Linked DNA regions of Homo sapiens: region 1 is linked to region 2. A link means that fine-mapping ties the variant in region 2 to the expression of a gene that starts in the linked region. Tissue or cell type: lung. Region 2 holds a variant in brackets; the other region holds the start of a gene. All regions are shown on one strand. Distances are from middle to middle. Region 1 holds the start of PUS7L (pseudouridine synthase 7 like). Region 2 overlaps PUS7L (pseudouridine synthase 7 like).

The links. PIP is the estimated chance that this variant, and not a neighbour inherited with it, causes the effect.
Region 1: PUS7L starts here. The variant in region 2 is fine-mapped to the expression of PUS7L in lung (TOPMed, PIP above 0.99). The same link has a PIP of 0.9 or more in whole blood.

Annotation. Positions count from the first base shown.
Region 1 is chr12:43,752,120-43,768,367 of GRCh38, reverse strand. PUS7L (pseudouridine synthase 7 like) reads left to right here and starts at 9,578. Exons shown (of 9, transcript NM_031292.5): 1 at 9,578-9,638; 2 at 13,107-14,032. The coding sequence starts at 13,123. It overlaps IRAK4 (interleukin 1 receptor associated kinase 4), which reads right to left and starts at 9,417. Exons shown (of 12, transcript NM_016123.4): 1 at 9,352-9,417; 2 at 96-265. The coding sequence starts at 256. RefSeq lists enhancers at 8,711-8,770, 9,391-9,500, 9,841-9,890.
Region 2 is chr12:43,713,044-43,729,291 of GRCh38, reverse strand. PUS7L (pseudouridine synthase 7 like) reads left to right here. Exons shown (of 9, transcript NM_031292.5): 9 at 1-10,300. Among named protein-coding and RNA genes, the nearest start is that of PUS7L, 38 kb to the left of the region's middle. The variant C/T (reference allele first, on the strand shown) is at 10,085.

The DNA.
Region 1 (16,248 bases), 39 kb before region 2:
CTTTCTAAACTGCCACATTAGACAGTACTTATACCAATTAATCATTCCATATTGTGATGTAAGAATTTAAAAATACAAAGAATTTTATCTGTTACCTTATGTGAAACTGATTGTATCTATCATCACCAGATGGTTTTTTAATAGCTACAGCTAACTTCTTCCATCCTTCTTGAGGATCAATAAAATCTGACAGCTTCCTAATTAGTCCAACATTGAGGCAGCGCACATATGTTGATGGTGTTATGGGTTTGTTCATCTTCTATTCCTAAAATATGGAAAAATCTCATTAAAATTTTACAGTACTTTTAGAGATGACATCTGTAAGCTTATATATCACACTTTGCTATATCATATGAAATGTCAGCAACTGATTATACCATAATAAAGAAACATTCCAAAGTCAAGTCATTGATATCCTAAGATGAAATTAAAATTGTAATTCATTTGTCCAATTATCCTCTGGGTTTGCTTCCTTTTTCCACCCATTAATAGCAATAAAAATCGGAGGACTTTTTTCTGACACTGATATTTTCCTAGTAAAATTTATAGAAAGGGGCAAAAAACTTACCAGAAAAATTCTTAAGAGTAATATCAACAAACTATCAGAATTAGCATATTCAGAAATCAAATCTATTAATAAAAACATTTACCTTTCAATTTATGTTTCTCAATTAGTACTTATTTACAATTAAAATTTATGCAACATTCTTTGGTAGAAGTAAAAAAAAAAAACGTACTGAAATGATTTGTGTAGCATTAACAGATATGGTCCACCCACCCACTTTTCACATACTTTGCTCTTCCTTGACCTCTGCACATTTTTTGAGTCCATGAGATCTGCCTGACCACAATTCATTTGCTACTACGCCAAAACCTGTGCTTCACCACTTCAACTACTCTCTAGACAGAATCTTTATTTCTGCAATCCCCCTTTACTTCTGCTACTCCATCCTGGAGAGCTGCAGCCAGGGATAAATCTAACAACTTTACTTGTACACCAGGGTTGCTGATGTGAATACAAATTTATGGTAACCCCCTTTCCACAGGGCCTTCAACACTGCCGTTAATCCTTCCACTTGTCTTCTCTCATAGTCCTTAGTGACTATTTCATACCTTTACTTCTTTCTATGTGGATTTTATTTGTTCTGCGTGTCCCTCATTCTCAATAGGAAATGATCTTTCCTTCCAATTAAGACAAATAGACTCAGATATTCTTCTGTCAATTATTTTTGCTTCCCTATATATATTTTAAAAATACAATTTTAGAGTAAATAATGTGTTCATATGGAACAACATTCTAAAACTATCAAAAAGAGTAAAAAGCGAAAAGCTTCTCTGTATCAGAGGCTTCTATGTTAGTATTCACTTCTTCTCTTTGGACTTCTTTGACCACATCTAAATAGGTCTAGCTGCCCTTCACCTAATTATCTTTCATCACTGCACAATGTATTTGTAATCATATACTTATTTGTTTACCTGTTTACTGTCTCCCATATTCGATTTTAAGATCCATGAGTTCAGGACCATGCTAATTTTATTCATGAATATACACCTAGTGACTTGCATACTGTAGATAATGGTATTGTTCAGTATTTACTTTTGGAACAACTAAATTATTTCCCAGTACAGTTTTATCATCTCTATTTTACAAAGGTGGTAAGTGAGAGATCCAGGACTTACAATTATGTCTGACTCCAAAAGTCATGCCATACAACTCTGCTTTTATAACACAATGCATTGTTCATGCCATTCTCTATTTCAGAAAGACCATTCCTTTCCTTTCATTCATGAATACATTCAGAAAATATTTATGTCAGTCTTTGTACTAACAAGTGGGAGCACAGAGAAGAGAAAATCTTTGTTTCCAAGCTGTTCAGTATACCAGGGGATACAAACAGTGACAGGGAGTGATAAATGCTGCAAGAATGTTATGGGGCCCAGAAAAGGGGCATCAAGCAGAGGCAGTCTGGAATAGGGATATCAAGACAGATTTGGTTGGAGTAGGAGGTTGGAAGGATGAATGAAAGGGAATGAGGATAAGCCCAAAAGAAAATTCCAGGCAGAGGGAATAGCATGGGAAAAGGTAAGAGCATGTGTGTCTCAGGCAAAGAGCTTGCTATGGCTGGACCACAGGATGCCTGTGATTAAGTGAGAAGAGATGAGGGTGGAAAGGTAGCAGGGCCAGATCATCATGTACCTCATGTGCTAAGACAAAGAGTTTGAACTTATAAACTAAAAGTTACAGGAGAGCCACTTTAGGATTTTTAGGAGGGATGTTAAATAATCTTATATGGTTAAGTGGATTCCTCTGGATAAAAATCAAAGGGATGTATATTGAGGCAAGAAAATTAGTTTGAAAACTTCTGCAATAATCCAGGTGAGCAGAAAGGAGAGCTTGGAAAAAGTATAGGGTAGGGGAATGGAGAGGTAAAACGTCAAAACATTTAGGAGGCCAAATCAAAACAATTTCACTAGAGATGAGCGATTAGAAGAAAGGGAGATAGAATGAAGTTTTTTTTTTTTTTTTGGCTCATGTTAAATGTGAAATATCTACCTTTGGCACTATCTAGGAGCCTTCATACCAAGTACTTATATATGTGGTCTGGAGCTTAGGAGAGAGGTTTCAGCAAAGAATGCTCATTATGTAAGTATTCTCATATATAAGGGGTTTTCAAAGAGTTCATGGAAAATGCATATCGTGCAAAAACCATGCATGGATTTCAATTTTTTTTTTTTTGCAAAATGTATTTCCAAAATAAACTCATACTAACTTATCATTCATGTCTAAACAGGATCTAGTTGAGACACTGAGAAGAATAAGACAGTTTGAAAAGAACCTCTACCACAGCAACATGAATTCTGCTAAAACTAAAGCAAGAACAAACACCACATTTATGGTGGAGGTTGGTTGGAAGAATGGTGAAATCACTGATGCTTTATTTATGGGGACAATGCCCCCAGAAAATCAGCAGTGTACAAATCAGTAACTCATTTTAAGGGATGAGATGATGTTGAAGATGAAGCCTGCTGCGGCAGACCATCCACATCGATTTTCGAGGAAAACATTCATCTCGTTTGTGCCCTAAATGAAGAGTACCTATAATTAACAGCAGAACCAACAGTGAACACCATAGACAACTAGTTCAGCCTATACAATTCTGACTGAAAATTAAAGTTGAGCAAACTTTCCACTTGATGGCTGCCCAAACTGTTGTACCCAGATCAGCTGCAGATGCGAGCAGAGCTTTCAATGGAAACTTTAAACAAGTGGGATGAAGATCCTAAACCATTTCCTCAAAAAATTGTAACAGGAGATGAAACATGACTTTACGAGTATGATCCTAAAGCACAATCAAAGCAATGGCTCCCCCAAAGTGGCAGTGGTCCAATTAAAGCAAAAGCAGACAGTCAAAAGCAAGGGCATGGCTGCAGGTTTTTGGGATGCTCAAGGTATTTTGCTTGCTGACTTTCTGGAGGGAAAAAGAATGGTAACATCTGCTTATTAGAGAGGGTTTTGAGAAACAGTAGCTTTTCTAAGTGTTTCTAAACTAAAGCTTTTCTGTTACAGCTTTAGTCAAATGTTTAGCAGAAAAACACCTGGGAAAGCTTCACCACAGAGTCCTTCTCCATCACAATGCCCCTGCTCTTTTCTCTCATCAAACAAGGGCAATTCTGTGAGTTTCAACTGGAAATCATTAGGCATCCACCTTACAGTCCTGATTTGTCTCCTTCTGACTTCTTTTTGTTTCCCAATCTTGAAAAATCTTCATAGAGCACCCATTTTTCTTCAGTTAATAATGTAAAAAAGACTTCATTGATGTGGTTAAATTCCCAGGACTCTCAGTTCTTTAGGGATGGCCCAAATGGCTGGTGTTATCGCTTACAAAAGTGTCTTGAACTTCATGGGCTTATGTTCAGAAATAAAGTTTACAGTTTTGTTTTTGTTTTTGGAGTCTTGCTCTATCATCCAGGCTGTAGTGCAGTGGTGCAATTTTGGCTTACTGCAACCTCTGCCTCCCAGGTTTAAGCGATTCTCCTGCCTCAGCCTCCCAAGTAGCTGGGATTACAGGTGTGCACCACCACACCCAGCTAATTCTTGTATTTTTGGTAGAGATGGGGTTTCGCCATGTTGACCAGGCTGGTCTTGAACTCCTGACCTCAGGTGATCTGCCCACCTCGGCCTCCCAAAGTGCTGGGATTACAGGTATGAGCCATAGTGCTGAGCCAAAGTTTACATTTTTTATCTTTTAATTCAATTTTTCCACAAACTTTTTGAAATGCCCTCATACAAATTAAGAGCATATACACATATACAGTTGAAGCAACAATAAAATGAGGTTGCCTATTAGGAATGCTTAGAATGGAAAGGAATGATGTGAAAGAAGAATTTTAAAAAATACTGCTTAGTCATGAAGGCAAGAAAAAAACCAGGATGGTAGCATACCAGAGACTTCTAGAAAAGGTGGCAGGTTGGTATAAAAGACTCAGAGAGGTCAAATAGACACTGATGGATATGTTAGACTCTGAAATCAGAAGGCCATTGGTGACTTGGGAACAGCTATAGTGAAAAAGTGAGTGAATGGCAAAAACAGATTTTCCAAGAAGTCTGGTTATGAAGGGAAGGAGAAAGAGAGAGAGAGGAGTATGAGGGGAGGGAAAATGGGGGTGGAGGGGTAGGGAAAGAGAGGGAGGAGAGCATGCAAGAGAGTAGCAGTTTTCAAATTTGGTCTCAGGACCTTTTACCCTCTTAAAAACTATTGTAGACCCCAAAGGGCTTTTGTTTATGTTGGTTATATCTACCAATATTTACCATAATAAATTGATGCTGAGAAACTTAAAAATTACTTATTAATTCATTTAAAATAATCATAAATATAGATGTTAGCATATATATTTTAATAAAATAATTACCTTTTCCTCAAAAACAGAAGAACAACATTGTTTTAAAGTTTTGCTAATCTCTTCAATATTTAACTTAATAGAAGAGAGCTGAATTCTTGTATCTGCTTCTGCACTCAACCCACTGCAGCATGTTGTTTTGGTTGATGTATATGAAGAAAATCCAGCTTCACACAGACATATAGTTATAAAGAAAGGTGTATTTTAATAGCCTTTTCACAAAGTAGTAGATATTTCTCTTTGATACTACACTAAAATTTGACAAGAAATAACTTCCTAAAGGTAAGCTGCAATGAGGAATCTGAAGCTGTATAAATTAACTTGGAACATTAAAATCCATTGCACTCTGAATGAATCTTTTAACTAAACATGATTTTGACCTTACAAATCTCCTGAAAGAGCATTAGGGACTCCAACCAGACTTTTGAGAACTGTTGGTGTTAAGGGTTTAAGACTTAAGCTGTTTGGCAATACAAATGGGATAATGAATAGCATATAGGGTGAAGAAATCAGCCTTGAATAGAGAGAAACCTCTTTTGAATCTAGAAAGAAGGAAGCAGAGGTTTAAATACAGATATATTTGAAGGGAGAAGAGTTCCCACATACTGTTATTTTTTCTGTGAAACAGGAAATGAAGTCATCTAGGGCCAGGTAAAAGAATAGCCCACATACCTTAAAGGCCACCTGGTAAATGCCTATTATTCCTTCAAGCCCAATTCAAAAGGCACTGTTAGCTTCCCCTGATTGTCATCTCTTTTGCTCCAAAATGTCACCTAGTCATTCTTCTGTTATAATAATTATTATGTTTTACTGTTTATGTGTTTGCTTTCTCTGTTAGATGGGTGCTCTCCTGAGCTAGGACCCAACCAAATTCACCTCAGCAACGACTCACAACATTTGTGTTGAATGAAAGGCTGATGACTTTTTAACTTTAATTAAGAAATTGTATCTAGGTTGCCTATAGACTCTGCAGTTGCTCTCTTCAAGTTATTTTTCCTTACTAAGATTTCTCTCTACTGTAAGGTACAACATGATTGACAAAGCTAGACAAGATAGAACTGCTTAGTAGTCTTATAAATTAGAGCAAAATACAAGGAATTGAGGAAAAAACCCAGACTATCTAAAGGCCAGGGATAAATTTGGTAGCTCTCCTGCACCCAGGCTTCCAGCAGAGGTGATAAGTGTAGGGATACTAGGAAAAAGAAGGCCTTCTGCAACTCCTCCACACATGTGCCCAGAAGTTCAAAATCCCAGAAATTAAAATTTTACTTTAAATGTATATTCATATACCACTCCCAACCACATACTTACAAGAACATAAGCCAAAATATTAACGTGGTTATCCCTTGGTGATGACTTTTATGATAGTTTTGTTTTCATTTTGCTTTTCTGAATTTTCAATAATGAAAACAGACTGGGCAAAAAAAAACTTAAAAAGTGTCATCTCTTTCAAATTCTTCAAGATTTACTTTAGTACACTTAGGATTAACACAGGTGGAACAGGATATGTTGCTTACAAATAAGTAAATACCTTCATGACTGTTTCCTCATACCACTAACTCTCATAGTAAAGAAAACCCATTCATATTTTCAAGTAAGACAATTCAGACAAGTGTAAAAGGTGGGGTGGTGATTGAGAAATATATTAAAATAAGCACCTGCTTATGGAATCCAATGCCTTCCCAAAGTACTGTGCCCAAAACAGGAGGGCAAAAGATTCTTGTCAAATGTGTTAATAAAGTTTTAAGACTGCTTCATTAGCACTTTGATCAGAGGAAAAGATTGTGCAGGGGTGGAGGGAAGATGAACTTTGAGGTTGCACAGGCCTAAGTTCTAACCAAAGCCAACTGTGACCAGAGCTAGTAAATACATTTCTCTGCACCTTGCTTTTCTTTATCTGAAAAACAGAGATAGTAATACCTAAGAATTGCTGTAAGAATTAAAATCAACACATGCAAAGGGCCAAATCTTGTCACATAATAATAGGTGGTCAAAAAAAAAAAGGAGCAATTATTATTTCCTGGCAGAAATTATTCTTATATCACATTATTTTTAAAGATATGTGCAGACTGTATTTAGGTTCAATTTCCAGAACAGTAGTGAGGATCTACTGAAAGCGTACAAATAACAAGTCTGAGAAAATAGCTAAGCTTTTGAGATGGTGGCTGTCTTATTTGATCAACCATGGTAATTTTAATGTATTTATATCCTTTCTAAAATACACTATTTACTTCCATATATTCTTAGCAAAATATGCTGTATAACCATTAATCTTTATTTTTAGATACTTTAACATCATCATTATGAACAAAAGCTGGTGAGGGCTTCCAGAGCTATTAAATTAGATAGGGCTGCCTATTACAAACTGGGATATGTGCTGGTGTACCATAAATTAAACTTAACATATCTTTCTTGAACATTGATCCAACACAACAGTAAGTAATTGAAAATGCTTTGCATATATTTAAAAAACAAAATATAATACCATTGACTCACCAAATATTTACTGAGTGTCTACTTTGTGCTAGATACTGCTCCAGGCCCCTGGAGATGAAGCATTAGGAAAATTAGAGAAAAAAAACAAAACAAAACCAAAACCTGAATTCATGGAGTTTATATTCTAATGGAGGAAGGAAGGCAATAAGCAAATAAATAAACTCTATAGTATGTTAGATGGTGCCAAGTGAAATGAAAGAACAAAACGAAATAGAGAAAAGGTTGTAATTATAAATATGGTAGTCACAGGAAGCCTCAATAAGAAGGTGCCATTTGATTAAAGGTCAAAAAGAAGGAGAAAGCCAGCCACTGGACTATCTGTGGGAAAAGTTTGTGGACAAAACGAAATGTAAATGCAAAGGTTGGAACTGGGCCCACTGGGCAACAGCAAGGACATGGTGAGACTGCAGAGGAGGGAACAGGCAAGTAGCAGATGAGGTCAGAAAGGTAAAGGGGCCAGGTCTTCAAGGGCCTTAGAGTTTTTGTATTGACTTTGTTTATCCTCTGGGTGAGATGTAGATGCTGGAAGTTTTGAGAAAAGAGACATGCTCTGTACTCATGTCTTAGAAGGATACTGGGGCTGCTGGGAATAAAGGATGTTGGAGTAAGGACAGAGAAGCAAGAAAGAAGCATTTAGGAGAGCCTACCAATAAGCCAGGTGGGACGTGCTGCAGGCTGGGACCAGGGTCGTAGCAGAGCAAGTGCAGAAGTCCTAGGATTCTGAGGTGGAGCCAATAGAAAGCTATGGGCTGATGTGGAGAGTGAGAAGACAGCATAACCAAGTTTACCGATATTTACTGAGATAGAGAAGGCTGAGGAAGGAGCAAGTTTGGCCTGGAATATCAGAAGCTCAGTTTGGAGAGGTAGAAAGCAAACTTCAAATGAACGCTCTGCAGGAAAACAGAAGAAATTTGAACTTCCCGATAGCCCTCTTCAAGGACCACTCCAAGAAAGGGAAAAGGCAGATTTTAGTATCCTCTGCTTACCAGGGGCCTTGGGCAGTTACGTTTTTGAAGCACTAATAGCGCCGTTTGTTCCCATTCTAAATGCTCAAAGTGCTTTCTCGCTTTCTCAGGGTTTGCTTTTTTTTTTTTTTTTTTCTTTTGAGACGGAGTCTCCCTCTGTTGCCCAGGCTGGAGTGTAGTGGCACGATCTCGGCTCACTGCAACCTCTGCCTCCTGGGTTCAAGCGATTCTCCTGCCTCAGCCCCCGGAGTAGCTGGCATTACGGGCGCCCGCCACTATGCCAGCTAAATTTTGTATCTTAGTAGAGACAGGGGTTTCACCATGTTGGCCAGGCTGGTCTCGAACTCCTGACCTCAAGCGATCCGCCCGCCTGGGCCTCCCAAAGTGCTGGGATTACAAGCATGAGCCACCGCACCTGGACAGGGTTTGCTTTTATCCCTTTGTCTCCCTCTGGCTTCCAAGCTGACAGGTACACTTTTTTCCCCCATCTGCGAATGTACTCATCTGATCCCATAAGCCGCCTCCACTTTCTAATTCCCTGGAAGCTTGGAGGCCGGAGAAACAAGCGAATTACAATCGTGTGGAGGCTCAGCGAGCTGCTGGCGCCACAGGCATCTGTCAGGTGCTGGCCTGACTTCCTGGTTCTGGGGAAAAGAGACTTCATTTCGCAGTCGGGTTCACGGAATCCAGGGCCTGAGAGGTGAGAAACTTGAGGTCCGACTGCGCCCCAGAACAGCTGGGTGACGTCCCTCCAAGCCTCAGGCTCTTCCTCAGGGCCGACGAACTTCTTGATTACCGGGGACCTACCCAAGTCTTTCTTCTGGAGTAAGCTCTGTCAAAGGAACCCACTTCCTCTCTAACTTTTCTCACGGATGATAAAGAGATTTCCGTTCCGCAGCCGACCCCAGCAACCCTGGGGCAGAGGTGCCGAGGCCTGGAAGCGGACCTCGGACGACGTTTGACCGAGGCATTAAGGCGGGGAATGCCTTACCTGCCCGGGCGCGGGCTGCTGAAGCCGGCGACAGAAGAACCAGCCGAACTAGGAAGCGCCGCGAAGGGGCGGGGCCTGCCGGGTTGGCCCCGCCCCACTTCCCCGATGGGCTTCATCTTGGCGCCTCCAGGCGGCTCCACAAAGTGAGAAACTCCACGTATTGCGTAGGGCGCGTCTTTACGTGGGCGCCTGCCCCTTTAATTACGCCCCTGTCGGAGGCTGAAACACTTAAGGCTTCCGGGCATGCGCACAGCGTTGTGCAAATGAATGCCTTCCACTGAACCGAGGTAGACGGGGTCGAGTTTCTTGCGCGATGGTGGGCTTGTATGTGTGTGTGTGTGTGTGTGTGTGGGGGGGGGGGGTGACGAGGTTGGCATTGAGGATCCATACCCTTTGCGCCCAAAGAAAGGTGACGTGGACTAGTGTCGTGCCTTTGGACAGGCAGAGTAAGAGGAGGGAGAAGAAACAGGTAGAGCTGCTGGCCTTGTCGGGGACACCTTTGGACGTGCTGGAGGGCAACGACGCCCTAGTTTTCTGTGAAGTTAAGTAGCTTCTGCAGGACTGGGTTCAGTATTTCTAGTACCTTCTCAGGATCCCTCCTCCGCCAACGAATTCCTCAACCACGGGCCAAGCAAACTACTCCCCCGCCCACTGTCAGCAGCAGTCTCTGTTGAATGGGAATACTGCACCTTCAGGCTTAACGCCACGTGGGCTCCTTTGCTGTCCTCCAGGTCAGTTCCACTCTTCTACCAGGATGCTGGAATTACATTCTCCCCAAGTTTCCCTACCTGTTTCACTTGCTTAGAATGTCTGTCTTCCTCCTTTTTTCTGGGAGAAAGAAAAGATCATTATTCTTTCAGGGCCAATCCCTACAGCTATGTTCTTGACCATGCTGTTTTGTTTTTGAACTCCTCTAACTGTTACTCCATCGGATACATCTTGCTCATTTCCATCAGAATCATCTTACAATTCCAAAAGCATGTTTTGGAATTGTGTCACTTTTCTACTCAAACACTAACAGTAGCCATCCATTGACCACCCAATAGATTCTAAGTCCTTGTCAGGGCATTCAACATCTTCCATAATCTGGTACTAACTCAGCTACATTTTCCAGCACTGTAGTCTCCCTGCATTCCCATCCCCACTGCTCTGTATCTGGACTGCTTGTTTTTCTTGCACACATTGCATGTTTTGTTTGTACATTACTTGTGAGGTCTCTGCCTCATTTCTATCTCTTGAACTATGGAGGACTTAGATGGCCACTTCTTGCATTATGCCTCTTCTAATTATCTTCCACTTCATTCCTACAGCTCTTATTTTGTACTAGTTATTTCATTTATTTAACAATAGTATTTATTGCAGACCTACCATGTGCTTGACACTGTTCAAAATGTGTGATCATCAGTAGTAAATAAGGCAGACAAGGTTACTCCTCACGTGGAACTAACATTCTCTTTGGAGGAGATATACAATAAATAATAAAGAAAAACTTTACCTAGAACTGCTATGCAGAAAATTAAATAGGGTTTTGTGAAAGAGAATCACTTGCTGGGCACGGTGGCTCACGCCTGTAACCCCAGCACTTTGGGAGGCCGAGGCGGGTGGATCACGAGGTCAGGAGTTCAAGACCACCCTGGCCAATATGGTGAAACCCCATCTCTACTAAAAAAATACAAGAATTAGCCGGGCGTGGTGGCGCGCCCCTGTGGTCCCAGCTACTCGGGAGGCTGAAGTAGGAGAATCGCTCGAACTCGGGAGGCGGAGGTTGCAGTGAGCCGAGATCATGCCACTGCACTCCAGCCTGGACGACAGAGTGAGACTTCGTCTCAAAAAAAAAGAGAATCACTTGCAGGTTCCTGTAGATTATTGGTCAGGAAAAACTTCTCTGAGGAAATGAATCCTAAAAGATGCAGCTATATGATTGGGGAGGGAACAATTTAAACAACAGGAACAGTTAGCACAAAACTATTGAAGAAGGCCAGAGTAGCTGGAGTATAGTGGGTAATGGGGTAAAGGTACAAATGAGTTTGGAGAATAAGCAGGGTCCCTAATCTTAGATGTCCTTGGAAGCCAGGGTGAGTAATTTGGATTTTATTGCAAATGTGACTAGAGGGTTTTAAACTGGATTGTGATATGATTTAATTTACCTTTTAAGACCATTCTGGCTGGTTTGTGGGCTAGTTATAGAAGCAGGAGTTAGGGACCTTCACAATATCTAAAAGTTTTTGGAATGGAAGTATTAAAGTTGGTGTGATAAAGGACATTGGGAGTCATAAGAATCAGATGCTTAAGGTTAATGCAGTTTTTGGAGATGAGAAAGTCAAAGTTATGACCGTGACAGTGGATGACCAAGATGAAGTAGAGGTGTGAGGTTGAGGTTGAGATTGAGGACTTGAGGGTCCAAGACATTGAATGGATGATCCATATAGATGATCATAAAAATCATGTTGGATAAGAAGGTAGTGAGCCAGAGATCAGTGAATGAAGCAGAGTTGTCTGGGGATCCGAGAGAGGATGACAGCAGATGGTAAAGCCCAATGGCAGGCTCTTCAAAAGAATTGGGGTTTTTGGAGGTAGTAGAGGAAGAAATGGCTTGCAACGAACAGTGACAAACATAGACCAATATTTACAGCCTCCAGGTCCTAAGGTAGATGGGTGGGAAAGAAAAAATAGCCTTTACTTGAGAGGACTGAAGAAGAAGCAGCCTGAAGAAATAGCCAGATTTCAATTAGGGCAAGAAAGTGAGGGAACTGTACAGGAAATTAAGTAATTAAGGAAAGTAAGTATATCTTATATATTCCTTAGGAAATTAGGATATGGAGAATTTGTAGTGATTTCTATATGGCATGATGGAAAGGATTGAGAAGGTGTGATTTGCTAAATTGGTTCAGATTAGTAGAATACATTATAGGTATGAGATGATGGTCCAGATGATGATAAGTTACTTGGAGAATGTGGGGGAAACACAGAACTCACTAGTATGGGGCCCCTGGGCAATTTATCTTTCCTGCAGCTCCATATGGTATGGTAGCCATGGGTTTGTGTGAAAAGTGAGAGATCAGAGTACTATTCTCTTGCATAGTGTTTCCAGGAAGCTCTGTAAGGGTTTCTTCTGTCTGATGCCAATGATATAGTTAGAACTTTCCTCTGGCTCAACCTTGAAAGCTTCTATTTGTCCTAATGGGGGCATTAGAGAAGGCCCAGGACTGACTTAATCCTACCTTGAAATATAATCAAATCACAAATTTGTATTTAGAACTTCATTTACCCATCAGTTTTCCTATTGTCTTTTTGTCACCTCTCCTGTCACTAACCACTAATAATATAAGAAAACTTAGCCACATGTTCTCTGGAATTAGCTGGAAATTTTAGGCTCCAGGAATGGAATTTGGACAAATCTTTGTTTTATAGTCCTGTGTTCTCACCTCTTCTTGTGAGCCTACAAATGATATTTTTAAGATAAAATTGACTCATTTTAATCCTGGATAATAGGTACAAATCTGGAGTGAGTGAAGATACAAGTTAACAAATCTTTAGCTATACCAGAAATAGTTTGCCTATTAATTCAGCTTGGTATAGGAGAGTCAAAGTACACAGGAAGTACATATAGTTATAAATTAAGTTAATGATACCATTTAAGAAGACTCAGAATTAAAAGAGAGACAGAATTAACTAAATCCTGCAAACCTATTCCTATTTGGTCATCCATAACTTCTCTTTCTGTTAACTAACCACCTCTTTGTTTTGTTTTCTAGGCACTGTTATAGAAGAATGGAAGAAGATACAGATTATAGAATCAGGTTTAGTTCTTTGTGTTTCTTTAATGATCACGTTGGATTTCATGGCACTATAAAAAGCTCACCAAGTGACTTTATTGTTATTGAAATTGATGAACAGGGACAGTTAGTTAATAAGACCATCGATGAGCCTATTTTCAAGATTAGTGAAATACAACTTGAGCCAAATAATTTTCCCAAAAAACCAAAACTAGATCTTCAAAATCTGTCCTTAGAAGATGGAAGAAACCAAGAAGTTCATACTTTGATTAAGTACACTGATGGTGACCAAAATCATCAGTCTGGTTCAGAAAAGGAAGATACTATCGTTGATGGAACTTCCAAATGTGAAGAAAAAGCTGATGTTTTAAGCTCCTTTTTGGATGAAAAAACTCATGAGTTACTGAATAATTTTGCCTGTGATGTAAGAGAGAAGTGGCTTTCTAAAACAGAGCTAATTGGACTACCTCCTGAATTCTCAATAGGCAGAATCCTTGACAAAAACCAGAGGGCTAGTTTACACAGTGCCATTAGGCAGAAATTTCCATTTTTAGTAACTGTAGGAAAAAACAGTGAAATTGTTGTAAAACCAAATCTTGAATATAAAGAACTTTGTCATTTGGTATCTGAAGAGGAAGCATTTGACTTTTTTAAATATTTGGATGCAAAGAAAGAAAATTCCAAATTTACCTTTAAACCTGATACAAACAAAGACCACAGAAAAGCTGTCCACCATTTTGTCAACAAAAAGTTTGGAAACCTTGTGGAAACCAAATCTTTTTCTAAAATGAATTGCAGTGCTGGTAATCCGAATGTGGTGGTAACAGTAAGATTTCGGGAAAAAGCACACAAACGTGGGAAAAGGCCTCTTTCTGAATGCCAAGAAGGAAAAGTTATATATACAGGTAATTTAATAAATCATCATCCATTTTCTTGGATAAGCTTAGCTAAATTTAAAATTGTGAAAATGAATTGAACAGACTTGGCTAGAGAGATTGGAAAGAATATATGATTTACCTTTAGGGAGAGGAATTGCTGATAAGCAATTTAAGCAACTCTAGGAATTCTTATTTATTCTGTTACTTACTAGAAGATGATAAAACCTTTTAAATTACACTGAATTTAAAAATTAGCCTTACTGATAACCTAGGCATTTATATTAGCCTATTCACAAATGTATAAAGTTGAAGCAGTTGGTTCGTGTTTAATAAGTTTTATTGAAGGTAAATCTTGATTTCATATTTTGGAAGTCATCTCAATTAAAATTAAGTTTTTAGAGACTAGAAGAATATATTTACTGTGCTTGGGAAAGTGAAGAGATACTCTGTAATCCAAAACAAATTATATTTCCCTACCCAAGGTAGGGAACCTGAAAACTTGGTCCTGCTGGTCTTTAGACAAGATGTTCTGAAACTTTAGCATGCATATAATCATCAAAAGTTCTTGTTAAAACAGATTTCAGAGCTCCATTCTCAGTTTCTGATTCTGGGGCTTTCACAGATTTCCAGGCAGTGTTTTTTCCTGGTCTGCTATGTTTTGAGAATCACTGTTTTAGGGTCTGTGTTTAATTCCCATGGTGGCTGGAACTGATGAACTCTCACTGTAAAAGTCCAGCTGACTAGGTTTAATTGGCCTCAATTCTACTTGAAGGATGGGAACTGTTTCAGATGATCATATTTAATAAATTTATTTAGCAAGATATTTTAAGATAAAACCAGGAACCTAAATTTGCACAGTGACACAGAAATAGGATGGTGCCATGTAGGGACTACAGGTGCAAATGAAAAGAGTTTGGACCTTGGAACTATGTGGGTTTGATTTGATATTATGACTTTTAGTTCACAAAAAGACTTATGAAATTTTTAACATGTTTAAGATTTGATTTCACAAATGTAAAAATGGGAAGAATAATACCTTGGGCAAGTTACTTAATAATTCATAACTTTTGGTTGTACTTGAAAAATAGGGTAATAGGAAAGCCTGACTCACAATGATATTCGAAGGATTAAATGAAATAATGAAATTGTTTACTATGTAATAGTTACTTAATATTAGGCATATAGTAAGTGTTAACAGATATATCCATTTTGAAGGAAAAACAATACTAGCTTTACTTGTAGAAAGAGGAATTGCTGGTGAGTGATTTAAGCAGCTCTAGGAATTCTTATTTATCTTATACTACTTGAAATTCTAACAATATTAATTTGGGTTAATGAGTAAAAAAATTATAGAACTTTATATATTAGTTTAAATTCACTTTTCTAAAGTTGTGAATAGTTGGAGGCATATGTTAAAAGGAGGAATGATGGTTCAAAAAACCTTTTATTTTTAATTTTAAATTACATTAAAATATACATAACATAAAATGTACCATCTTAACCATTTTTAAGTATCAGTGGCATTGAGGACAGTCACATGGTTGTACATCCCTCACCACCATTCATCTCCAGAATTTTTTCACCATCCCAAACTAAAACTCCATATTTATTAAACAATTCTTCCTCCTCTCCAGTTCTGAAAAATGGGAACCACCATTTTTCATTCTGTCTCTATGGATTAGACAACTCTAGGTGTCTCATATAAGTGGAATCATACAGTATTTGTCTTTTTGTAATGGGCTTATTTCACTTAGTATGTTGTCGAGATTCATCTATGTTGTAGCATGTGTTAGAATTTCCTTCCCTTTTAAGGCTGAATAATACCCCATGGTAGGTGTATGCCACATTTTGCTTACCCATTTGTCTGCCAGTGGATGGGATATAATGGTCAGTAAAGCACACGTGATATTTACTTTGTAAGCATTCAGCCTTGGAACTTGGAAAGAATTTGAGGGAGAATGTGGATGTGAGGTGACTTCTGAGGCTAGGTCATAAAAGTATTACACTTCTTGTCATGTTCTTGGATTGCTCACTCTGGGGAAAGCCAGCTGCTATGCTGTGAGGATACTCAAAACAGCCCTTTGGACAGGAACTAGAGCTTCATGCCAACAGCCAGTACCAACCTTCCAGCCACGTAAATGAGCCCCTTTGGGAATGGATCCTCCAGTTTCTTTCAGGCTTTTAAATAACTGCAGCCCATCAGAGTGAACAGGCAACCTACAGAATGGAAGAAAATTTTTGCA
Region 2 (16,248 bases):
GGGAAATGTTAGCATTAGGAAATAAAATCCAAAAGAAGGAAGAGAAGCTATATGCAATGCAAAATTTGCTTATTGCAATATTTTCATATACAGACACTAAAAACAGTTTTCAAAGTCCAGCATTACGTAACTAAAGTAAGTAAAATGATGTGTATCAACTTGATGGTAAAATATGTAGTTATTTAAAAAAGCAATGAACAATTTAGTTTCATGAGAAAATGTTGCCCCCTAAAAGTAGAACACATATGTTACAACTGCAATAATACTCTGAATTCATCTTTCACAAATAAGAGACATGTTAGCATAGTGATTAAAAGCACAGATATTGGAGACAAACTAACCCAGTTTGAACCCTGGCACTGCCACGTATAGCACTGCAGCCTTGGGAAAGTTATTTAAACTCATGGGCTTCAGTTTCAACATCTGTAAAATGGGCATGTTAACATTGCCTACCTCATAGGATTACTGTGAGAATTTTCTAAGTTAATATATGTAAAGCAACTTTAAAAAGTGCCTGGCACTTAGTTATTGTTAAGTAAGTGTCTGCAGATGCAAGTTTGGAAGAGAAAAGCAAATAAATGAAAATCCCTTCCTGTTAAGATGATGGGGTATTTGGATTTTTTTTAATACTAAAAAGTTTTTTTTGTTATATGTTTTGGCAATAAATAATTCTCAATACACAAAATTGGATATTGTAGTACCATTGATTTTCTTTGGATTACTGCCATCATTTTAATGTTATATTGAGAATGAAGTGATCCTCTATTAGGTAGTAAAAAAAATTTAGAAAAAATGTTTTATTTTATATGATAAATCGTATCCTATAAATGTAATCATAAAATGAGTTATATACATTATTAAATCCTAGTTTTTAAAAGTTTTGAATAGCAATCAGAAAATACGAAAGCATGAAAATATATCATTGATTTTACTTTTTTTGCCTGCAGATGGCACTATAATTTTAGACATTTATTGATTTATTTAGTAAATACTTCAGCAGTGTATAAAGGAACACTAAGTTTATTTCATCACCATAAAATGTATTGAGATATCATTCATGTGGAATATTATTTTATATGCCAATAAGATGCCATGTTAAACTTTTTTTGTTTAAGGACTTTTATTATTAATAGTATGCTTTGGACCAACTGATGACTAGTCACTTAGGTTTTTGCAGTTTTGCTGGGGCATTTCAGACCTTCATAAGCATGATCTTTGGATTAGTTTTTTTTTTTTCTTCACCTCATTATTAGGAGTTAATTTATTTTTAAAGTGTCATCTTAAACTGCAAGGATGTCCTTTAAACATCACATGCCAATTAAACATGCCGAAGGAGAAGCTGTGTCATCAAAATGCCCACTTAACCTACCCAAACATCTCAAACCTACCCTTTGCTGACCTTCTATAGCCCCATTTCCAAAGTTTTGCTTTATTTTTATTTTTTCTTCCAACTTTTATTTTAGGTTTAGGGGTACATGTGCAGGTTTGTTACATGGGTAAATTGCATTTTGTGGGAGTTCTGCATACAAATTATTTAATCACCCAGATAATGAGCATAGTACCTGATAGGTTGTTTTTCTATCCTCATCTTTCTCCCACCCTCCACCCTCAAGTAGGCCATGGTGCCTATTGTTCCCTTCTTAGAGTCCAAGTGTACTCAAAGTTCAGCTCCCACTTATGAGTAAGAACATTTGGTATTTGGTTTTCTGTTCCTGCATTAATTTGCTTACAATAATGGCCTCCAGCTACATCCATGTTGCTGGAAAGACATTATTTTGTTCTTTTTTATGACTGTGTAGTATTATCTGGTATACATGTACTACATTTTCTTTATCCAGTCCACTGTAATGGGCATCTAGGTTGGTTCCATGTCTTTGCTATTGTCAATAGTGCTGTAATGAACATAGGCGTGCATGGTCTTTATGGTAGAACAATTTATATTCCTTTGGGTATATAACCAATAATGGGATTGCTGGGTCAAATGGTATGTCTGCTTTAAGTTCTTTGAGAAATCTTCAAACTGCTTTCCACAGAGGCTGAACTAATTTATATTCCCATCAGCAGTGTATAGCATTCCCTTTTCTCTGCAGCCTCCCCAACATCTGTTATTTTTTGACTTTTTAATAACAGCCATTCTGACTGGTGTGAGATGGTATCTCGTTGTGGTTTTGATTTGCATTTCCCTAATGATTAGTGATGTTCAGCATTTTTTCATATGCTTTTGGCCCATGGATGTCTTCTTTTGAGAAGTGTCTGTTCATGTCCTTTCTTCCGTTTTTAATGGGATAATTTTTTGCTTGTTAAGTTCTTCATAGATTCTGGATATCAGACCTTTGTTCATGCATACTTTGAAAATATTCTCTCCCATTCTGTAGATTGTCAGTTTACTCTGTTGATAGTTTCTTTGGCTGTGCAGAAGCTATTTAGTTTAATTAGGTCCCACTTGTCAATTTTTTTTTTTTTTTAGATGGAGTTTCCTTCTGTCACCCAGGCTGGAGTGCAGTGGTGCAATCTCGGCTCACTGCAACCTCCTCCTCCTGGGTTCAAGCCATTCTCCTGCCCCAGCCTCTCAAGTAGCTGGGATTACAAGTGGCCACCACCACACCTGGCTAATTTTTGTATTTTTATTAGAGACGGGGTTTCACCATGTTGGCCAGGCTGGTCTCAAACTCTTGACCTCAAGTGATCTACCCACCTCGGCCTCAGAAAGTGCTAGGATTACAGGCATGAGCCACCATGCCCAGCCTTCACTTGTCAATTATTGGCTTTGTTCCAGTTGCTTTTGGAGTCTGTCATGATATCTTTGTTAGGTCTTTTGTCCAGAATGATATTTCCTAGGTTTTCTTCTAGGGTTTTTATAGTTTTAGGTTTTACATTTACATTGTTAACCCATCTTGAGTTGATTTTTGTATATGGTAAAAAGAAGGGGTCCAGTTTCAATCCTCAGGATGTGGCTAACCAGTTATCCCAGCACCATTTATTAAATAGGGAGTCCTTTCCCTGTTGCTTGTTATTGTTGACTTTAACAAAAATCAAGTAGCTGTAGGTGTGTGGCCTTTATTTCTGGGTTCTCTAACCTGTTCCATTGGTCTATGTGTCTGTTTTTGTACCAGTACCATGCTGTTTTGGTTACTATAGCCTTGTAGTTTAGTTTGATGTCAGGTTGTGTGATGCCTCCCTCATTGCTATATTTGAATTAGTTTTAATTGCCAAGGTTGTTTGACGCTGAGCTAGCAGTAGTGCCTGGGAGTCGGTTAGGTGAAACAAATTGAGGTCTTTTACTAATATTAAAATTAAAACACCTTGATTTTTTTTTTGTGAGCTGTAAAAAACTGAAAGTCATGTAACTTTTGATTTAACTAACATTTTCTGAGTATCTATTATGTCAGTATCTCACACTTTAATCCATATTCCCACCCTGTGTGGAGGTATTATCTTCCCTTATTTGCAGATTGGAAACATACCTGAGTAGTTTACTAACCTAATCAAGGTCAAACAAAATAGCGTGTGGTTGAGCTTGATTATGCTTCTTAAATCAGTACTGTTTTCATCTACCTAACATTTGCCTTCTGAGAACAAGTTTTTGGATATTAACTTCCATTTAGGCCAGGCACGGTGGCTCACGCCTGTAATCCCAACACTTTGGGGAGGCCAAGACGAGTGGATCACGAGGTCAGGAGTTCAAGACCAGCCTGGCCAAGATGCTGAAACCCTGTCTCTACTAAAAATAAAAAAATTAGCTGGGCTACTTGGGAGGCTGAGGCTGGAGAATCGCTTGAACCCGGGAGGTGGAGGTTGCAGTGAGCCGAGATTGCCCAGCCTAGGTGACAGAGCGAGGCTCCACCTCAAAAAAAAAAAAAAACTAAACTAAAAATTAAAATATAACTTCCATTTCTACCAACTTGATATAACTTGCCATTGATTTAATAGGCATATTGGGGCATGTCTTGGGAGAGACAAGATACCTTTTGATTCTGAGACCAAAATATAAAGTAAAGGGGATCCCTTCAGGAAATCCCCAAATCATTTTGGAGTTTTCCCAAAGTATTTTGGGATTTGTATCATAATAATATGTAAAATCATTATAGATCATAGGAGGTGTTTTAGATGGTACCTGGCACAAATATCATTGAAAAAGCATAGTGAGAAACTTGTTCTTTTTCAATATACTTTCAGTCCTCACATCAATCATTCTGTTTAAGGAAGGAGAAAGCTGATTGATACTATTTACATATATCAACATTGGCTGATTTACCTTTTTAGCCAACTATGCAGGCCTCAGGCTCAGAAACATCAGCAGTCAACAATATAATATGTAGCTAGAATGTAATAGGATTGCATTGTTTTATTGAATTTATCTTCCCTTTTATTTATGGTAATCAATTCTGGCTTCCTGTTTATGTGATGGTATTATGTTTCCTTTAAAACTAAATTTAATTTTAAAGAGGTAGAATCAATTTAAAGGTATTAAATAAATAATAGTATAGACATAGCAGTAATTATGATACCAATACATGAAGGATTAGAGTATGGGAAATATACTGGTACAGTTGAGAATCCCTGAAATCAGAGATGGGCTCTACCACTGCTTTAATATGCGACTTTAGTAACCCACTGATTCTGTTGTAGAATTCTTGGACTTGAAGTACTGTTAGTTATCATTTTTCAGTCCAGGATAGTATTGCATCAAACAAAATTATGAAATATATACAAATTTGAGACATTATGAGCAGAGGCATTGATGACCACATGCTATATCTTAAAATTTTACTGATAGTTGATTTTAGCAAGTCTTATGAAACACTAAGAACAATGTCTGGTGCCTAGCAAATTCTCAGTAAATTTCAGCTAGTATTATTACAGTTAGTATTACTTTACTATGCTCCCTGATAAAATTTTTATAATAAAATGGTTAATGACTTTCCATTGAGGTCTGATCTGACTTAGTTTTAGCATAAAGTAATTACAATTCATATTTTTAGAGGTTTTTTTTTTTGTAGTAGTAGAAACAACTATTTCTAAATCTGGGGATTCAGTAGTTCATTCAAATTAGGATCTTTAAGAGCTGTCTAGGTCAATGTTCCTTAACGTTTTCTACCTGGGAGTAATCTTTAAGAGAACAAAAAGAAAATGAAACTCTATATAATTTAATGCAAAGTCTTTTACATTAATGTAAGGGTAGGAAAAGAGGTTGGAGGAAGATATGGGGAGGTAGGAAAATGGGACTTTTTTCCTCCATTTACTTTTGATGTTTGAATTTCAAACATGAGTATATTTGTGTATTATTTTGCGGTTAAAAACACTGAAGATTGCATAAAGATCAAAGAGGGAAATTTAAGGGAATTAATGGGTTATGATTGCATTTGTTCAGAATGGTTTTGGTGGCTCATGACAACATTTTGAGAGAGAGAGATTTTAATGGCACCAATGGCAGCTAGGATAACTAGTTTAAAGTTTAGGGCCTGTGTTAATAGATTTTGCTTTCTAGTTTCAGAAAGATTCTCTTATAGTACTGTTTTAATCTGTTTTTCTAAGCCCTCTGATTTATGTATATTTAATAGGCCACAAAATAATGTCAAATATATGGCATAATAACCAACAAATATTTGAATAAGTGAAAGGTACTCTACAAAATGCTATGGGAAAGACAAAAATAAATAATATCCCTTTCTTTGAGGGATTAACAGTGTTAATATCCCTTGTTTTCATTTGATTTGAAATGCCACTTGCAAGTGGAATATGCAGACTAAATGGTAAAGAGAAAAACAAGCAGCATCTTTTCATTTCACTTACAGCTCACTGTATGACCAATAATATGTTACTTGACCTCTCAGCACTCCATTCTAAATCCTTAAATGATACTTATTTAGCATTTCTAAGCATCTTGAGATCTCCTCTTAAAATATGCTTTGAACTATTCAGTCTAAATGCTGCTTTCTAAAAAGCTACTAGTTTAAAGAATGGGAAATGGTGTTAATGGAGTTAATCTTGTGTAATTTCAGTGTGGGTTGTCAAGAATACCTCTAAGTAAAGAAAATGACTCTAATCTTCTTAAGCAATTCATTTTCTCAGCAACTTTGAGGCAGGAGTTAATTTACTCTGCCTGTGTACATAGGCCATCTCTTACAAAAGAAAAATTTTACTATGGAAAGAAGTCAGAATAGCCATGAAATTATTTAAATTTAGTCTTTAGAACATATTACAAAATATAAGATATATTAAATTGTCTTTTTTGTTAGAAACTCAACTACCAATGTAGAAATAAAACTCCTGTTGCAAGGATGGAGTTTAGCCATGGAGTCAAAACAAGAGCTATTTGGTTATTTTAAAAGAGAAGAGATCAAAGAGCTGGTCACTCCTTAACTAAGGGTGTTTGGGCAGCAGGATAGGGTGAAGAGTGGAGGGGGTTGAACTCAATTCTTTATGCTTTTATACCAAGCCTCCCTTTTCTAATAAGCCTTACTGGCATTTCCTTAGACTAGTTAAGTCAGGATTCTGAGTTTTTCAGTACAATAGGGTTTTAATCTGAGCTGATCATTGTTTCCAATGCCTCCCCTGTGGCAGGGGAACATAAAGGACTAGTGTTCTTTTCTAAAAAGGGAAGATGGATATTTTTTCTATAACCTTTATAATTCCATTATAATAAAATGAATGATAGGTTATAATAAAATGAATTTTTTGCATATGATTTTCAAAAGGAAACTAATTTATTTTTCTATAAAATATCGCAAAGGAATCGAATACATTTTTATTCTATGTAAATAATAATATAATTTTCACATTTAGGAGGCAATAGCAAATCTGGGAAGCAGTTATTCTAAGTTGGAAGAGCATTATCCCAATGCATTGAAAACATTTGATGACTATTTTTTATGTCTTCTTTATTTTGATGATTATAATAATGTTCTAACTGGGTGGCCTTCGTTTTTCACTCTAGTCAGTCCATCTTGTTTACTATGTCAATTGTTCTCCAAAAAGTAGAAATGTCATTGTTTTGGGGCCATAGAACATTTCAGAAGCTTTCCAGTATCTATGCAGTAACAGTCCAAACCCCTCAACATAACACATTTACACCTGCAAGTATGGCCCCAAATCTTCAAGTGGCTTCTGTCACTACTCCATAGTACATACCCTTTGTTACAGCTGTTTCACAAATACAGGTTGAATATCCCTTATCTAAAATGTTTGGGACTAAAAGTTTCAGATTTCAGATATGTTTGGATTTTGGAATATTTGTACATGTATAATGAGATACTCTTAGAGTTGGGACCCAAGTCTAAACAAAATTCATTTATGTTTCATATATACCTTATACACATAACCTGAAGGTAATTTATTTTTCCCTTGGGAACACTGAATAGACTATATGTTGTGCACCTACATTTTGACTGTGACCTATCACATGAAGTCAGGTGTGGAATTTTCCATTTGTGGCATCATGTCAGTACTCAAAAAGTTTTGGATTTTGGATTTTGAATTTTCAGATTAGAGATGCTCAGCCTAATAGCAAATGTTCCCATGTTATACACCTCAACCTCCCATTCCCATTGGCTGGAACATCTCTGCTTATATTAAATGTCTTTTATGTGAAATCTGTGTTCTCATAGCCTTTTGTATAGTTCTCTACCATCTCATGGCTCACATTGTATTGTACTTATTTGATTAAATATCTGGATCATCTACTGTGAATTATTCAAGAGCATTGATCTTTATACCTCTGGCACCTATCAGTGCCTGACATATAACAGGGTTAAAAATGCTGAGTGAATACTGCAAATATACCTTAGCAAATTTATTTGCTGAATACACATCTCAAGAAAGTTCTGAAATAGTTATTTCCCCTCATAGAAAGTTTAGAGTATTAAAATTGGGTATCTTTATAATGCTTTTTCTTTTGTAATACTTTCATCTTTGCCTTTTATTGAAATATTAAATGCATTGTAGAATTTGATTTAAAATTTAGAACAAGCTGTCAGGTATGATAACTAGTCTCATTTAACAAATGAGGATTCCAGGGCTTGAAGAAGTTAAGTAGCTTCCTCTAGATTGTAAAGAGAGTCTAACCTGGCCCTTTTTGGTTTTAAGGGCATGATGATAACCACTTGCTCTACTGATTTCTAATGGAAAGTGCTTCAGTTTTCCACTTTGCCTAGCTAGTGATTATTTAATATCTGCTTATCTCTGAATTTATCTGCATATTTCTAAAACTTTATGACATTAAGGAAAGTTGGGGAAAATTCACTTTAAGTGTTGTAATGACAATAGCTATCAATCATTGAGTACTGTGTACTAAGCATTTTATATTTTATCAACAAGTACTTACATGTGGGATAAGTACTGTTATTATTTTCATTTTATAGATGAGGACACATATAGAATGCAGTTAGGAAACTAGAGAAAGAGAAAACATGGAGAATTATCTGGAACTAATAAGACAGTAAAGTACAGATTTAAGAAGTTCAGTGAATCCCAAGCAGTGTAAATTAAAAAACTACATTGAGATACATCATAGTGAATATGCAAAACATCAATAATAAAAAGAAAAACCTTAAAGGCAGCTTTAACAGTATACTGAATGACCAATATACTCAGCAGCCACAGAACCTCTATTCTTTTAAAGCATCCATGGGACATTTATAGAAATTGACTATGCACTGGACTATAAGCATATGCAATAAAATTTCAAATGACTGAAACCATATGAGTATATTCTTTTGCCACAACACAATTAGGCTAGAAATGAACAACAAAAAGATAACAGGAAAATCTCTATATATCAGAAATTAAGAGATGCACTTATTTATTTTTTGTTTTTTGTGATGGAGTCTCACTCTATCACCCGTGCAGTGGCACGATCTTGGCTCACTGCAACCTCTGCCTCTTGGGTTCAAGTGATTCTCCTGTATCAGCCTCCCAAGGAGCTAGGATTACAGGCGTGTGCCACCATACCCAGCTAATTTTTGTATTTTTATTAGAGATGGGATTTCACCATGTTGGCCATGCTGGTCTCAAACTCCTGACCTCAAATGATCTGCCAGCCTCAGCCTCCCAAAATGCTGGGATTACAGATGAAGAGATACACTTCTAAGTAATCTATATGTCAAGTAAGACAAAATGAAATTAGAAAATATTTTTAAGTCAATGATATTAAACCATACTACACATCAAAACTTGTGGGATGCACTTAAAGCAGCATGTAGAGGGAGATTATATTCATAAATGCTTATGGTAGAAAAGAAGGAAGTCTGTACATTATGTAGCTATGCACCCATCTAAAGAAGTTAGGAAAATGACATCAAGTAGAACATCAAAAGAAAGAAGGAAAGGATAACTTAAAACAGAAATGAATGAAATAAAACCAGAATAGAAGAGACGATCTACAAATCCAAAAGTTGGTTTGTTGAAAATACTAGTAGAGCTGACATACTTGTGGTGAGACTGATGGAAATAATGCAGTTACAACTAACCAATATCATAATTGGAAAGGAAATCACTATAGGTGCTGTAAAAATTAAAAAGATAATAGAATATTATGAACAATTTTCTGCCAATATTATTGAAAGTTTAGATAAAATGGAAAATTCATTTAAAAATATAATTTGACAGTATTATGTTATGTGAATACTATAATGATAATCCTGTAATCATTAAATGAACCAGTAGTTTAAAATTTTTCCATATAGGGAAGGTCAGGGCCAGATGTGTTCAATGGTTGGTTCTACTAGACATTCAAAAAAATAATAATTCAAGTCTACACAAACTTTCCTGAGATTAGAAAAAATAAAGAAGAGTCCCCCCACCTGTTTCTTACTTTATGAGACCACACCTAAAAGATAGAAGACTGCTTTGCAACCAAGAAATCCTTCATGAACACCTCTTTAATCACAAGTCCTCAACTCCAAGGTTAGCTTTATTTCAACTTTTATAATACTTTTCTTACTTTTCTTGATAGCTTTACCACCCATGTATTCATTCCTAAAAAATACACAGTTTTGTCTGATTTTGAATTTTATGTGAATGGAATTGTACATATCTGTGTTTGTGTCTTCCTTGTTTTACTCAATACTGTTTCTGAGATCAATCA[C/T]ATTATTTGTTAATATTTTGTTTAGGATTTTTGCATCTCTATTTCAGTGTGTGTTTGGAATGTAAATTTCCATTCTCAGACTATCTTTTGGCCTGAATTTGGTTACATGAGTATATGTTCTAAAAATATTACTTACACTTTCAATAAATTTTAAGGACTTTTATATTGTTATGTATCAAATTTTTTAGAATGCAAGAATAAATATTATAAAACATCCTTTGGTTTGAGGAAACTACTAAATCTGTTAATAATCCTTTCAGCTCTATTGAAACAGATTCGTTTTTAAAAGCTGCCCTGTTTTTGCTTTGGGGTTTGGGGAACACACACACACGCAGATGCACACAAACGAACACATATATTGAACTTGCATATATATATATATATATATATATATATATATTTTTTTTTTTTTTTTTTTTTTTTTTTTTTTTCTTGAGACAGAGTCTCACTCTGTTGCCAGGCTGGAGTGCAGTGGCACAATCTCGGCTCACTGCAACCTCCGCCTCCCGGGTTCAAGCAATTCTCCTGCCTCAGCCTCCCGAGTAGCTGGGACTACAGGTGTGTGCCACCATGCCCAGCTAATTTTTGTATCTTTAGTAGAGACGAGGTTTTACCATGTTGGCCAGGATGGTCTTGATCTCTTGACTTCTTGATCCGCCCCCCTCAGCCTCCCAAAGTGCTGGGATTGCAGGTGTGAGCTACTGTGCCCAGCTGGTGAACTTGCATTTTAAATGTAATAGGGAAGTAGTCTACCCTCAGCCTCCCAAAGTGCTGGGATTACAGGGGTGAGCTACCGTGCCCGGCTGGTGAACTTGCATTTTAAACGTAATAGCGGAGTAGTCTATGAGAAAACCCATGGTGATTACCATGACAACAAAGGAAACCATCTATAGAATGAAGACACAACCTACGGAATGGGAGAAAACATTTGCAAACCATACATATCATAAGGGGTTAATATCCAAAAGTAATTAATAGCAAGAAAAAAACTTGATTAAAATATGGACAAAGGACCTGAATAGACATTTCTCAAAGAAAGACATATAAATAACCAATAGGTGTATGAAAAAATGCTCAGCATCACTAATCATTAGGGAAATGCAAATCAAAACCACAGTGACTATCACCTCACATCTCTTAGAATGGCTATTATTAAAAAAGATGAAAGAACAAATCTTGCCAAGGATGTGGAGAAAAGGAAATCCTTGTACATTGTTGGTGGGAATGTAAATTAGTACAGACATTATAGAAAATAGTATAGAAACTACTCAAAAAATTAAAAATAGAACTACCATATGATTCAACAATCTTACTACTGGGCATATATTCGAAGGAAATGAAGTAAGTATGTTGAAGAGATCTTTGCACTCCCACGTTTATTGCAGCAGCATTCACAGTAGCCACAATACAAACCAACCATTCAGCAGATGAATAGATACAGAAAATGTGGTGCATATACACAATGGAATACTATTAAGCCTTTAAAAAGAAGGAAATTCGGTCATTTGCTATAACATGGATGAACCTGGAGGACTTTTCAATAGCTGTAAACTTTGGATGACTCTAAAAGAAGACTAAAATTTTCCAAAAAATTTTATATGCAGTTAAACAGCATTTACTATTTGGTAGGCACTGTCACAAACACTTTGCCTGTTATTCTTTTAATCCTAAGTTTAGCCAAGAAGTGTATATACCCATTGCACACACAAAACCCACTATTAAAATATTATGGTCAGAAAAGCAAGCGCGAATGTCTCATTAAAATTGCAAAAATATTTTATGTTGAAATTTTATACAAATTCTATACTTAATATCTTCCCTAGTAGTTGTATTTTGTTTTTCTTATAATTATTTAAAGAAAGGTAATCATTTTTTTCCCCCACTGATACCCCTAATCCTCTCCAGTCTACTTTAGAGAGACACAATTATCATTTTCTTCATGTGAGGGGAAAAAGTTGGGGAGCAATACACTATATGGAGTCAGATAAAATAGAGGAAGAAGCTGAAGGCAAAATTCCTCATTATTCTTAACCATTCTGCATTTTCAAGGTATATTAAAAATAAATAATGTTATAAAATATGATGTCCATATAAAAATGACATTTATTGCCCTGTGTGTTTCTTCTTTGTTTTTCTCTCTCTTTTTGGTCCATGCCCCCATGCTCTCAGTCTTCACTGGACTTGATCAGTTCCACAGCCACAGAAAGCCATAGGTGGTTGGTTGGCTTCATAAGATACTTCTGTGACCTTTGTACTGATGATTACTTAGTGTTCCCAAAAGAAAACTCACTAGGAGCCATCCTTCAACTTCAATGCCTGCTCTAATTTCACAGTGAAATATATCCTTGCACTTATAACCCCCTCATAGCTTATGTAACTCTACTGGGTATACTTGCATGGCTTAGTGCACTAAGAAAAGCTGGGGGCTACTCTACAGTTCACTCTGGCTATTTCTGGAGTTTTAGGATGTTTATTTTTATTATGCAATCAGTTTTTAGATGATGAATTAAAGTATTTTGATAATCAGCTGAATAGCTCTAACAATTGCAGTTGAATAGAATTTCTTTTAGTAGGAGCTACTGGGAAATATTCTGTATATGTTCTTTGATAAGAAAAATTAGCAAACTTAGCATTTTCAATCCTTGACTACTGCATTTACAATTGTATTTCATGTTATCCAAGAGACTAGATAAAACACTGTCTTATGAGACATGAGTTAGAATTTAGATTTCTGCCAAAACACCTTTAGGTGACTTTTGATATGAACATAGCTGTGTAAGTGGGGATTTTTTCCCCCTTCTGGAAGTCATACAAAAGTAATGAGAAAAATGACGTTAAAAAAACCCCTACAAACAATATAATAAGCAAATTTAACGACATCTATGAGCTACCAAGAGCAGATGAGACCTGAAAATTTGCATAATAGAGAATGAAAAAAGTGGCAAGACTGTTCAATAATAGCGGATCTCAAAAGCAGCAAAACTGCTTTTTCTAAAGAAAAAGTTAATTTGCTTATTGTCAAGGGTGTACAAAATTAAGTAAGCAAAACTGGCAGCAGAAACCCTGCTGAACCTGACTTGGGGCTAAACAAAGCATCACAAACAATGGTGTGCTATAGTTGTAGAAGTAGAAGAGGGAATCTTTGAGTTATAAAGCTTGGAAGATTTTCTTGGCCTCTCCCTCCTAATCAAGATCTTCCTGCAAATAGCTGCTCTGGGAAATTTAACTCATTGAATTACTAGTAATAAAAGATACTGGCATGGCCTCAATACATAGATACTGTAAGATAAACATGTGGAAGAGAGCAGCAAAATTTACCAACAGACTACACACAGGTGGCCATAAAGAAGATAAAAAATGTGATAAACATAATTTTTTTGTAAAGTAATAATTTCTATAAAGGATGGCTATAAAAAAGAAATGGATCAAGTATAAAAACACAGGAAAGATATAACAAGACGAAAGGAGGAGGAGGTGAAACCTGAGATAGTGGATCTTAGGAAAGATGCAAAAGACAAAAGCAAAATCATCAGAAAAATGGAAATAAATTGAAAGAAGCACAGGTAACAATAGACAATGAGGAAAACAAATTAAGAGAAAACAAAGACTACCACTAGAACCAAGTTGAGCTCTCCCAAGTATGAAGATTTAAACACACAACAGGTACCCACAAATGCAAGAAAAACAATAAAATGAAATGTTAATGGGTTAGGATATAAAAGACTACAAAAGACCTTTATGTTTGTGTTAACAAGAATCTCTGAGACAAAACAAAAATTATACTTTCCCATGGAATTAACAGAGGGTAATGAATTTAAGGAAAGCTTGATGGACTGACTATAAGGGTGATATAATTTTTTTTTTCTTTTTTAAGCAACATGGTCTTGCTATGTTGTTCAGGCTGGAGTGCACTGCCTATTCACAGGTGTGATTATCATAAGGCACTGCAGCCTCAAACTACTGGGCTCAAGCAATCCCCCTGCCACAGTCTCCAAGTAGCTGGGACTACAGGCACATGGCACTGCCCCAGGCTGACATGAATTCTTTATGGCTAAGCAGAGAGCCATATTAGCTCCCACTCTGAGGGTAGGTAAACTCAACCTAACATAATCTGTGTACCAGCCTAAGCTCAACTCAAACTCTAGAAAGAGTCAGAATAAACAGCCTTTCTTCCAACAGCCAAAAAAGGAAAGAGCTTGTACTGTTTGGGAAATAAATAAAACAAAACACCACTGATATCTTATACTCAATGTTGGGAATTGAATTCTTAAAATAAGGCATTTAATGAAGCAAGAAAATGTGATCCATAATGAAGAAAACACTTAACGTTAAAATATTGAAGAGCTTCTCCTAAAAGATCAGAAAGAAGGCAAAAATGTCTGCTGTCACCACTTCCGTGATAGTAGAGGTCCTAGCCAGGGAGATAAAGTAAGGAAAAGAAATAACATGTAAATACATAAAGTTTGGAAAGGAATAAATTTTTATCTTTGGAAGACAACATGTTGGTGGACATACAAAATGCAAAGGAATCTACAAACAGCCAGAACTAATCGTTGCTTTTAGGAAGTTCACAGACTAAAAGGTCAATGTGCAAAAGTTAACTCTATTTCTATGTAATAGCAACGAATAATTGAACAATGAAAATTTAAAAACAATAATATTTACAATAGCATAAAAGTATAAAACAAATAGGAGTGTATTTAACAAGTGGTTACATGTTCTCTACACTGTTAACAAAACATTTCTGAGAGAAAAATTAAAAAGACCTAAATAAGTGGACAGATGTATGATGTTCATGACAGTAAGACTCAATGTTGTTAAAATGGTTTACCCCAAATTGGTATACAGATTAGATTAAATGCCAACCAAAACACAACCTCTGTTTGACAGCCTGTTGTTTGTGTGAAAATGGTACAAATCAGCCGTCTCCAACCTTTTTGGCACCAGGAACTGGTTTCGTGGATGACAATTTTTCCATGGACGGGGCAGGGGAATGTGGGGAGATGGTTTTGGGATGAAACTGTTCCACCTCAGATCATCAGGCATTAGGAGCCCAAGACCTAGATCCCTCGCATGCACAGTTCACAATAGGATTTGCATCCCTATGAGAATCTAATGCTGCCGCTGATCTGACAGGAGGAAGAGCTCAGGCGGTAATGGTGGCTTGCCTGCCACTCACCTCCGGCTATGTGGCTGGGTTCCTAACAGTCCAGTGCCAGTACCAGTGGGTACCAGTCTGTGGCCCGGGAGCTGGGAACCCCTGGAACAATGATTTGGAAAATTGTTTGTCATTTTCTCATAAATTTCACATACACTTACAATATGATTCAGTAATTCCAAACTAGGTATTTACCAAAGATTAATGAAAATACATGTCTACACAAAAGAAGGATAAAAAATGTTCATGGTAACTGGGCTGTGCCGAGGTGGCTCACACCTGTAATCCCAGCACTTTGGGAGGCCGAGGCGGGCGGATCATGAGGTCAAGAGATTGAGACCATCCTGGCCAACATGGTGAAACCCTGTCTCTACTAAAAATACAAAAAATTAGCTGGGTGTGGTGGCGCGCGCCTGTAGTCCCAGCTACTCAGGAGGCTGAGGCAGGAAAATCGCTTGAACCTGGGAGATGGAGGTTGCAGTGAGCTGAGATCGTGCCACTGCACTCCAGCCTGGTGACAGAGCGAGACTCCATCTCAAAAAATAAATAAATAAATAAATAATAAATAAATAAATGTTCATGGTAACTTTATAATAGTCAACAACTGGAAGCAACCCAAATGTCCACAAAAGGAACATGGATAAACAGGTGATGGTATAGTTACATAATGGAATAAAAAACAATTTTAAGCTACTGATCACGCTGCATGCATGCATATTAAAAACATTATGTTACATAAGAGAAGCCAGAAGCAAAACAGAACATGTACTATGATTCCATTTATATGAAGTTCAAAGCAGGCAAAATAAACTATGGTAATAAAAATCAGATCAATGGTTGCCTCAGTTTGTAGGGGGGAGAAGAAGCCAGTGTGCAGAGGGAAGGAGGTTTGATTTGATCCAAGGGCCACAGGGAATTTTTCGTGTGAAAGAAATGTTTGGTACCTTGAGATGGGATAAATGGATTTATTAATTTGTCAAAACTTGTTACGCTGTACACAGTTAAG